2 linked regions of the Homo sapiens genome follow. The protein of the gene in region 2 interacts with the protein of the main gene of each other region in a pairwise test. Each region holds a gene or a part of one and is shown on either strand. Other genes may lie near its edges. The genes, in order: NRF1 and CKMT2.

Region 1 (7,312 bases), on a different chromosome or scaffold from region 2:
TCGCTTGAACCCGAGAGGCGGAAGTTACAGTGAGCCAAGATCATGCCACTGCACTCCAGCCCGGGCGACAGAGCGAGATAGTATCTCAAAAAAAAAAAAAAAAAAATTCTATGGAGAAAAACTTTTAAAATAATAGAGCCAAAAATTAAAGAAGACAACAATTTTAACACTCAGTCGCATTACCACATAATTCTGGTAACATATCAGAATTACTTCTTCTTTAGACTTAGCACCTACAGCTAGTTTTGGGGTAAGAGACTAGTTCTATGATGGTATTCCATGATGTGTTCTTACTTAGCAAATCTTGGCTAGTTCTTTGATTTGTGGGCTATTTTTACATGGAAGATCTGTTACCAAAAATTTTATTTCATAATTGTTTAATGAAAGAAAGAACCAAAAAAAGTTCCCAAAGGAAAAGACAAAATACTCCATTCTATCTGGGCCCTCTTTGGAGATTTACTGAATGTAAAGATCATCCACAAACACAAGCTAATTACAAATCACATAACACAAGTTTAAGATTACCCAACATATTTATTCATATCATTCTTGTATTTACCAAGACTACTGGTAAAATAAATAAAAGTTGTAGACCCTCTCCCCAGAAAAATCACAAATTAATCCCAAGTGGCATTAATTTATTTTGAGGGTGGCAAGCAAAAGTATGGATATCACTGCCCCAGAAACTAGGGCCTAGCTGACAAAACTGCCTCCTAATCTAATTTCAAAGATGCAAAGATTAGCAGAAGGAAGTAAAAATTACCAATTATCTAAAATTTCAAAAAGAAATATTTTGGAAATCAAGTAAGATCTAGTGAACACATAATGTGCTTGAATTTCTTAATTTTATTCACGACTTTAGAAATGTGAATGCCAGCAATTTCTTAGCATTAAATCATCCTGGATCTCAAAGTATTCCATAATCGTCATATTTCAGAAAGACACTACAAAAACCATCAACGGTATTTTCATTTCATGGTCAGAAAAAATTTGCAAGGAGAAAATAAATGTCTTGCCCCATATCACTAGACTGAAATATTTGTGCATTTAAAATTTTTTCCAAAGCATAAGCAACACCTAACTTAAAAATGAATTTTTTCTGACAGATGAGCCAGCTTGGTAGAAAAATTTTTTTCCAACAAGCACAATCTATCAATTTGTTTTCTTTCAAAACACTTTCCCTTTAAAACAATAGTAATTTGGGCCCAGTGCGGTGGCTCATGCCTGTAATCCCAGCACTTTGGGAGGCCAAGGCGGGCGGATCACAAGGTCAGGAATTCAAGACCAGCCTGTCCAATATGGTGAAATCCCATCTCTACTAAAAATAAAAAATTAGCTGGGCATGGTGGCAGGCGCCTGTAATCCCAGCTGCTTGGGAGGCTGAGGCAGAAGAATCGCTTGAACCCGGGAGGCGGAGGTTGCAGTCAGCCAAGATCATACCACTGCACTCCAGTCTGGGTGACAAAGCGAGACTCTATCTCAAAAAAAAAAAAAAAAAAGTGATTTGATTCCCCTACCCCATAAAGCCTACTGTATCTACAGTGCATGAATAAACATATACTAAGTGTCAGTCCTAGAGTATAAAAAAACCAAGCAATCCAGAGACTTGACAAAATTCTGAAATCGGTTAAGCTTTGCTTTGGCATTCCTCCTACCTTCCTTCTGGTGCTCCTACTCCCATTTCTAAGAAGTTCCTCGTATCTTTCCAAAGTTCTTCACCTGAGACACCTACTCAAGATTTCTTTCCCTTGATCTGTCTCACTTGTTGAGATAACTGATTTCAGCCAACGAACACAACCAACACTTGATTTAATCATTAACATTTAGTAAAGGCCCTTGACTTTTCTGTGTGTCAACAGCCCCCTTGAAAAATCTCATAAATGTTGTGGACCCTCTCCCCAGAAAAATCACACATGCACTCACACATAACTTTTCAAACAATTTTAAGGGATTCAGGGTCACACAGCCAAAATATATAAACCCCAGAACCAGAAAACCCCAGGTTAAAAACCCCCATACTTAACATATTAATATCATAAAACCTCAAAACTCTGCAAGAGGTTATTTGTATTTTAAGACACTGTCAACTCAAATGAAATCTCCAATTCTCAGAATTTAAGACAATGTAAAAGAGGCAAAAAAAAAAAAAAACAACCCAAACAATATGGAGATTTTTAGGCAGCCTTGTCATTGGGGGTCATCTCCCAAAGCATTTAAGCTGCAACTCCCATTGCAGAGAGACATGGAAGAACAGGACCTATTTCTAAGCATGGGTCTTCTACTAAGTTAGATTCTGTAGGACCTACCCCTGAATTTAGTAATGCTCTAGAAATCTATTCTGTCTAAACTATCATGGTTCCCAGCAAAACAATACATATATATATATATATATATATACACACACACACACACACACACACACACACACGTGTATATATATGTGTGTGTGTGTGTATATATATATATATATATATATATATATATATATATACACGTATGCCAAGTCCAGTTTTTATCCCAATGATTTTTTTTTTTTTAATAGATACGAGGTCTTGCTATGTTGCTCAGGCTGGTCTTGAAGTGCTGGGTTCAAGCGATCCTCCGGCATTGCCCTCCAAACCAATGAACTCTGTGGTATTTCACACGGCTAACTTCCCTGTCAGTATTCACTTAATCCCTCTCTTCAGCTTCTTCAACCCTATAACCTTATCTGTTTAGCCATTCTTTCTCAACTTACTTCATAGGTTTCTATTCTTCTACTTGACCCTCAGATGTAGATGCTCTTCAAGGTTGCCCTTAGTTTTTTTTCTTCACTCCTGATATGGTTAAGCATTCCTAATCCAAAAGTTTAAAATCTGAAATGCTCCAAAATCTGAAACTTTCTGAGTGTTGACATGATGCCACAAGTGGAAAATTCCACACCTGACCTCAGGTGACATGTTGCAGTCAGAATGGAATCAAAACTTTGTTTCCTGCACAAAATTATTTAAAATATTGTATAAAACTGCATCCAGGTTGTAAGATGTATATGAAACACAAATGAATTTCAAGTTTAGACTTGGGCCCTATCTCCAGGGTATCTCATTATATGCATACCAACATTACAAAGTCAAAAAAAACTCCAAAACATTTCTGGTCCTAAGCATTTTGGATAAAGGATACTCAATCTGTACTATTTTCTCTTTCTTTTTTATAGACAGGGTCTTACACTGACACCCAAGCTGGAGTGCAGTGGCCCTATCATAGCTTGCTACAGCCTCAAACTCCTGGGCTCAAGTCATACTCCAGCCTCAGCCTCCCGAGTAGCTGAGACCACAGGTGGCTACCACTATACCTGACAAATTTTTTAAATTTTTGTAGAAACAGGGTCTCACAACGTTGCCCAGACTGGTTTTGAACTCCTGGCCTTAAGTGATCCTCTGCCTTGGCCTCCTAAAGTGTTAGGATTACAGGTGTGAGGCACCATGCCTGGCTTTCTGCAGTTTCTATATGGCATTATACTGATGAATGCAAATCCCCTAATTTATCCCAATGTCCCCTTGAGCTCCAGCCCAAATACCCAGGTACTTACTTGACCTTTCTTGATTCCCAGATATCTTAACACATCTGGAGTCATACTCTATTACCTTCCTCCTCAAATTCTGTTCTTCCTATACATTCCCTATCTTAAAGGCATCATCATCACCCAATAACCACACTATAATCTTTAACTCTTTACTCAATTGTCACTCAAATCTGACAACTGTGAAGTAAAAATTATCCCCAGAATCGATGTCCTTTTACATCACAATTCAATACTCTCACAAGTCTCTAGTCAAATCTTTACATGTCATCTTTTTAAAAACCATAGTGGATGTCCTACTCAAACCTCTTATGGTCCCTAAATGCCTATAGAATAAAGTTCACACTCATGAGCATGGAATTACAAACTCTTCCCAATATGGCCACAACCTTATCAGTTTCACTTTCCACTATTCTCCAAGTCGAGCAAAATCCACTTGCTAGTTCTCAAATCAGACTACTGATGCCCTTCCTCTCAGCCCCTCTTCTCCATCAGTAATGCAGCTACTCCCCCTTCCAAGTCCTACTCAAACTTCCCCTATGTGAAAAGTCTTCCCTAACCTCACTTTTCTCTGTGTATCATTCTCCTCTCCCTAGAAGGAATTTCTCCCTCCTCCTATAATCCCACACCACTCTTTGTTTGCTCTATTTTGGTTCTCTAGAAGTTGTAACATAGCTAGTTGAGCCCATACCTTTCTGCTCTACACGACAAGGCCCAAGATTTGTTACTCTAGCACCTAGTACATGCCCAGAATGTGGTATATCTTTAATCATCGTCAGGTGAATGAATGAGTGGCAAAACTCCAAAGTGAGAATACACTTAAGGAGGTTATTTCTTAATGGAGAGAATGCTTCACTCTCCTTTGAACATAAAACAAGAATCAGGTCCCCTAGTCCCCAACTCCCCATTTCTAGTCCACTGCGCAAACAGTTTTAAGCAATGTTTCATTGGGACATTTCCTCATTTCCCCTTGTTCTTTGTAGGTTTAGCTGCCAGCCTAACCACATTAGCATTCAGTAGCAGCAACAAAACGGACTCTTAAAGTTCTAAAAAGCAAAAACTTTACAATTACCAACAGTAAAATACATGCTCTTTTTAAAAAAAACTGTCTTAATATATATGCATACAAAGCTCATTCTTCATGAAGATTCAGAAAATGGCTTGGCATAGTTTATCCCAACAGGCACCACTTAAAGAGTTCTTAAGAAAATGTCCACTTAAGCCATCAGCCAAACTTTTCACATTTGTTACCACAGAAATCAGCATGCATGAATTAATCGAAATACAATGCATATTAAACAATGCAATTACTATAGTCTAAATCACCAAACTGATAACCCATACAAAAGTAGCTCTTACAACTTTTTTTGAGAATATTTCCCCTAAAAAATTCCAGTGATCATCCCAACCTACAAAACTAGATTATTTTACTAGTATCATCTTCTCTTTACCCCTCTTCTCCCCACCAACACTCCCTCCAACACACACACACTTCTCCTTAAGAGAAACGGCTTCCTCAAGAAATTATCTGATGGTTCAGTAGCAGTTGGAGTTTTACACAAACTATGTTGTGATTGGGCAAGGCAGACTACCAGATCTGGGATTCAGTAGACCATTCCTTACTGTCAGATTATCTTCTAAGTGACTGCTCTTAGAGAAACAACACAGATTTGCCTCAAGAGATTACAAATGTGGTAGGCCTACCTTAACAGCAACTAGTTTTTTTTAAGAAACACGGTCGCACTGTCGCCCAGGCAGGAACACAATGGCATGATTATGCTCACTGCAACCTCAAACTCCTAAGTTCAAGTGATCCTCCTGCCTCAGCCTCCTGAATAGCTCAAACTATAGGCATATGCCACCATACCCAGCTAGTTTTTCGTTTTTTTGTTTTTTTAAATATTCTGTAAAGACAGGATGTCACTACATTGCCCAGGCTGGTCTAGAATTCCTAGCCTCAAGCAATCTTCCTGCCTTGGCCTCCCAAAGTGCTGGGATTATAGGCATGAACCACCATAACCAGCCATTGTTTTCTAATATACTAGAACATCTCTGTAAAGTTTTATTTCTAGCCCTTCTTTGGGTCATAGAAAGTTTACTTGGTATCACATAAATGTTCACATTTTAAAACATTTTAGGCCTAAAGACCACAACATGATGAAGCCTTTTGGATGTTTTGCTAACTACACTGCATTAAGTTGGGCTGAAAATACATTAGCCCAATTCTGAAGTGCACTTTTGAAAAAATAAAAAATATATATATGTGTGTGTGTATATATATATATTCTAAGGTATAAGCAATCCACTTATTTTTCTTGAGCAGTCAAAAATTCCTTTCCCAAGTTTTGTCCATATTGCACTAAAATAACTTCAAACAAAGCATTGTTGTTGCTTGAGGATTAAAAGTTTCCAATAGCTCAATATGGTTTTAATCTCCTGGAAACACCTGAAATTCATTTGTTTCACCTCCTTTTACTATTTATCTTCCAGTCTGTTTACCTTAGTAGAAAACTGATGGATAAAAGTACTAACTGAAAACCCAAGAAAGTGGGTAATCCACCCTCTAGTTAATAAGGAAGGAAATATGATACACAAGGCACAAAAATTAACATGTATCTTGAGACTCAAAAAACATTGGACTTGGTCTAAATAAAATGTTTCTAAAATAACAAGTGGATTCCTTTTTCATTGCTGTTTTACTAAGCATTCATGGAAAATTATATTTGGGTAAGCTCAGGCTGAAAACACTAGCTTTAGCTATCAAGGAAAACATGAAAGAACATAAAGAAAATGTATTTTAGTATAGAACATTTCCTGAAATGTTTTTTACAAAATCAAAGATTTGCATTTTAAGATTGATTTTCCAAATACTCTATATATACATATTAATAAGCATCACACAGTCACACACAAACATCTAAATTCAGATATCCCATTTCCTAGATGATTACTGGCCCAGAAAGGGCGCATCTAAACTCTTGAGGTTAAAGTAGACATTTGTGAAATTCAACAGCCCAGGGAGTTTCCCCTCACCCTTCAATTTTTCACAGTGGCACTGTGTGAATGAATAAGCCTGCTTCAGCATGAAGCAACAGGCTTGTCTAAAGACATCTGACAGAAGCTGAATGTATACATTAACTTCCTGTTGAGGTAGGACTGTAGACTGTTTCTAAAGACTGACAGTTCATAGTTCCTCCAGAAACCAAAAAATCAGCATGCCTTTTCAAATACTCAGGGAAAAATTTTAATTTCAGTAATTACTGTTCATTGTTATTATTCTTCAACTTTACTGAATGCCTTATTCCATACAAGAAAAGGCATAAAAATTTAATCCCAGACCACAGGAGCTTAAATTTCCCTTAAAACAAGTCACTCATTCGTGATTATTTACATAAAATGCTTCTAAAGACAACCCAGAGATTTGGTTGAACCTACAGTGTGCAGGCAATGCAAATTCAGGTATTTAAATCATGGGAAGTTGGCCTTCGGTTCCCTAACAAAATTAGACAAGTGCATAATTATCGTTTAATAAAACAAAAAACCTACAATTTGGGGTCCTAACGACATACACAGGAATTCAGAAGGAAACCTGAAATCCTTTCTCCTTTAAACCTTCTATATCTGGACAAGGGCCCTCATTATCTTCTACTTCTATAGCTCCTTCTCTTAACACAGGAGCTAAATTTCCTTGAAACATGTTATGAAGCCACTGCCAGCACGGTGGCACTTGCCTATAGTCTCAGCTACTGG
Region 2 (2,889 bases):
TGTGGCCTGAAACAATGAATGAGGCAAAAAGATCACATGTAAGGAACATGCAGCTGAATGCTAAGCAAATACTGATCATGGTAAGTTATACCAGCCTATCTGGATGTGGTCCCATTGGACATATTATGCCCATCATTAATTTTAAAGCCTCTTCTCATAACAAAACCCTTAATAATTCAGTGACTGGTTATTAAATCTGTGGATTATCAAAGTTCTCTCTTCTTCCTTACCAGTTTTTGAATATTTCACTGCCTATCAATATCCCTACCAGTAAGTACACTGAGGAAAAGGAAAGGAAGAAACCCTCAAAACAATTAGATCAGCCAGTGTGCTATCAGCTCTGGTAAAGTACTTGAGGGACATGTAACTATAATACCACAACTTCTGAAATTTACTGAATAATGTGTGGTGTAGTGAATAAAGAAAATCTGGGAGTCTATCCCTGTTGATTCTAATATTAACTAGATATTTATTACTGGAAAACAATGTAGTTAATGCTTTAAAAATGTTAAGTCTAACTATACTAGGCAGTCACTATAAAAGTGAGGAAAATGCCAAAAAATAATTTAAAAACACCATTTATTTAACCCAACAACCCTGATAACCATTGTGAACATTATTCTAAATGGCCCTTCATTCTTTTTAAAAACTACCCAAAAAACTTGAAAAAATTGTTATAATACATGTTTAATATTATAACCAAATACTGGTTATAATTTTTTTCCAATGCATTATATCATGAACATTTTCCCACAATATTAAGTATTCTTCACAAACATGATTTTTAATCACAGTAAAGATAATCCATTACCTATTTAATGTTTTCCTGATTTTATGTTTGACCATCTCTCTACATAATTCTAATCACAACTCTGGTTATTTAGTTAGGATATACTTCTAGAAAAGGAATTCCTGGGTTAAAACCAGAGTTCCCTATTTATAATCAAGTTTTCTACCAGATTTATACCAAGATAGAGTCCTACTGGCAGTGAGTGAGAGACCTATCTCACCATACTCTCACCAACACTGGAAGGGATCAAAAGGATAAATAGAAAATATGTGTTTTAGTTAGTAGTGACTAACATTCTGATTCAACCCTCTCTTGGGGCCTAAGTTTCCTTATGCATATAAAGAGATAGATAGGGAGGCAGCTGGAGTATGTGATGCCTGAGAGCTAACATTCAATGGTCCCTTCCATCCTTGCTGCTCATTCTTTAGTTGTATAATGTATGTCTGGAATTAACTAATTTCTCTCTTAATTTGGGTTTCCTTGGGGGCAGTACAAGTCATTTGCTTAGGAGGTGATCCCAGGGGAAAAAAAAATTAAGTAGATGTGCTCTGGTTTAAGGAAAACAAATATTTGGAAACCAAAGTTCTATACAGAGTTTTTTAAGAACAGGAATTTTAGAAAGTATATCTTAATTTGCAAAACTCATTTCATTAATAAGCTTGCCTAGCATAGTACAAACATGATTTAGTTGCCAAACATTTGACATTAATTTTTCAGGAAGACACCCACTGTATTAATGATGATATCTGAGCTACATTAGCATATCCAGTGCTCAGATAGATTAGTGGCAGGTCAGAATTCAGATCCAGGCCAAAGAATAACACGAGGGTGTCACTGTAGTCTTACTTCTAGACAAACTCTGATATTTTATAGCAGACACTGGTAGGAAAAAATGTTAGAGATGCAAACTAATGGTTTTCACATAGTAAAAAAGCTTTCACATACAAAGTAGTATCCCCATCTTAACTATGGAAAGATTGAGAGAAACCCTTATATCTCTGCCTTCCATTTCTGAGAAGGAAGGAATTGTTGTGAAGTCCATCTAAGTGGCAAGTTCTCATTTATCACAGTGCTGTTCCTGTTAATCAATGCCCTGCAGATGCTTCTATTCAAATTAATCATTCATCTTCTTCACTGTCAAAGGTTGAGCTTGTTCAGATAGTCATCGATGGAGTCAATTACCTGGTGGATTGTGAAAAGAAGTTGGAGAGAGGCCAAGATATTAAGGTGCCACCCCCTCTGCCTCAGTTTGGCAAAAAGTAAACTTTCCCTTTCCCAATTTATAAATAATCTGTCTGCTGGTACGACAGACATAAATCTCTACTCTGAGAGTTTTTATACACTTGGAAAAATATAAAATTGTAGATCCTGCCTATCTTTACAATAAAACTCTCCTTAATATATCTTTGCTTTGTTTCTCTGATTTTTAAAATAATACTAAGAAGGGCAAACACATCCGATTACAAGTAGACAAGAAGCAAAATATTTTAAGACAATAAAACTAATATTTTAAGTTTTGATTTTGCCACAACTTACACACACCTCTAAATAACCCATTAGCTATCCAGATGTTAGTCAACCCTTTTGGAAATATCTTATGGACCCCATTGGAAAGTGAGAAATTAAATTAATATAATAAGCAATTTTCTGGCAAATGGAGCAAGAGGAGACTTACCTATTGAAAGTGTGGAAATAAAGACTATACAAAGAGAGGCTACTTATTTATTCAGACTTTGCTTTCACAAGGGTGTCAGCTATCATCACTTGCATTTGGCAGAGACATGAGAAATCTTCATGGTGAAAGAAAGGGGAGGCTTCAGATATGCTCTGATTGGGGTTGCAGGCATGGGGAAGTTGGAGACAGGCTACCTAGAAGCGGGGTATGCTATGTGATTATTTTGGGAAGCATATTTGGTTTTATCTGATTGGTCCTGAGTTTGAGGCAGGGGCAAAAATTAGGGAAGCCAGCAGTCATTGACCAAGTCCTGACCATCCTTTACTGATTGTTACAGAGGTTAGGGTTTGGTCTCCTAGAACGGTTGCTTTAGAGGTTGTGGGTGAGAGTTCTGTTGTCCTGTGGTCTAGCCATTGTCTCTGTA

What was found.
Region 1: the proteins of CKMT2 (region 2) and NRF1 interact in binary tests that used the Homo sapiens proteins (3 or more experiments, as listed by UniProt).

What each region holds. Positions count from the first base shown.
Region 1 is NC_000007.14:129,614,576-129,621,887, reverse strand, and holds part of NRF1 (nuclear respiratory factor 1), read right to left. Parts: intron 1-7,312. UniProt on the Homo sapiens protein: Transcription factor that activates the expression of the EIF2S1 (EIF2-alpha) gene. Links the transcriptional modulation of key metabolic genes to cellular growth and development.
Region 2 is NC_000005.10:81,264,206-81,267,094, forward strand, and holds the end of CKMT2 (creatine kinase S-type, mitochondrial precursor), read left to right. Parts: intron 1-1,933; coding exon 1,934-2,053; 3' UTR 2,054-2,193; downstream 2,194-2,889. UniProt on the Homo sapiens protein: Reversibly catalyzes the transfer of phosphate between ATP and various phosphogens (e.g. creatine phosphate).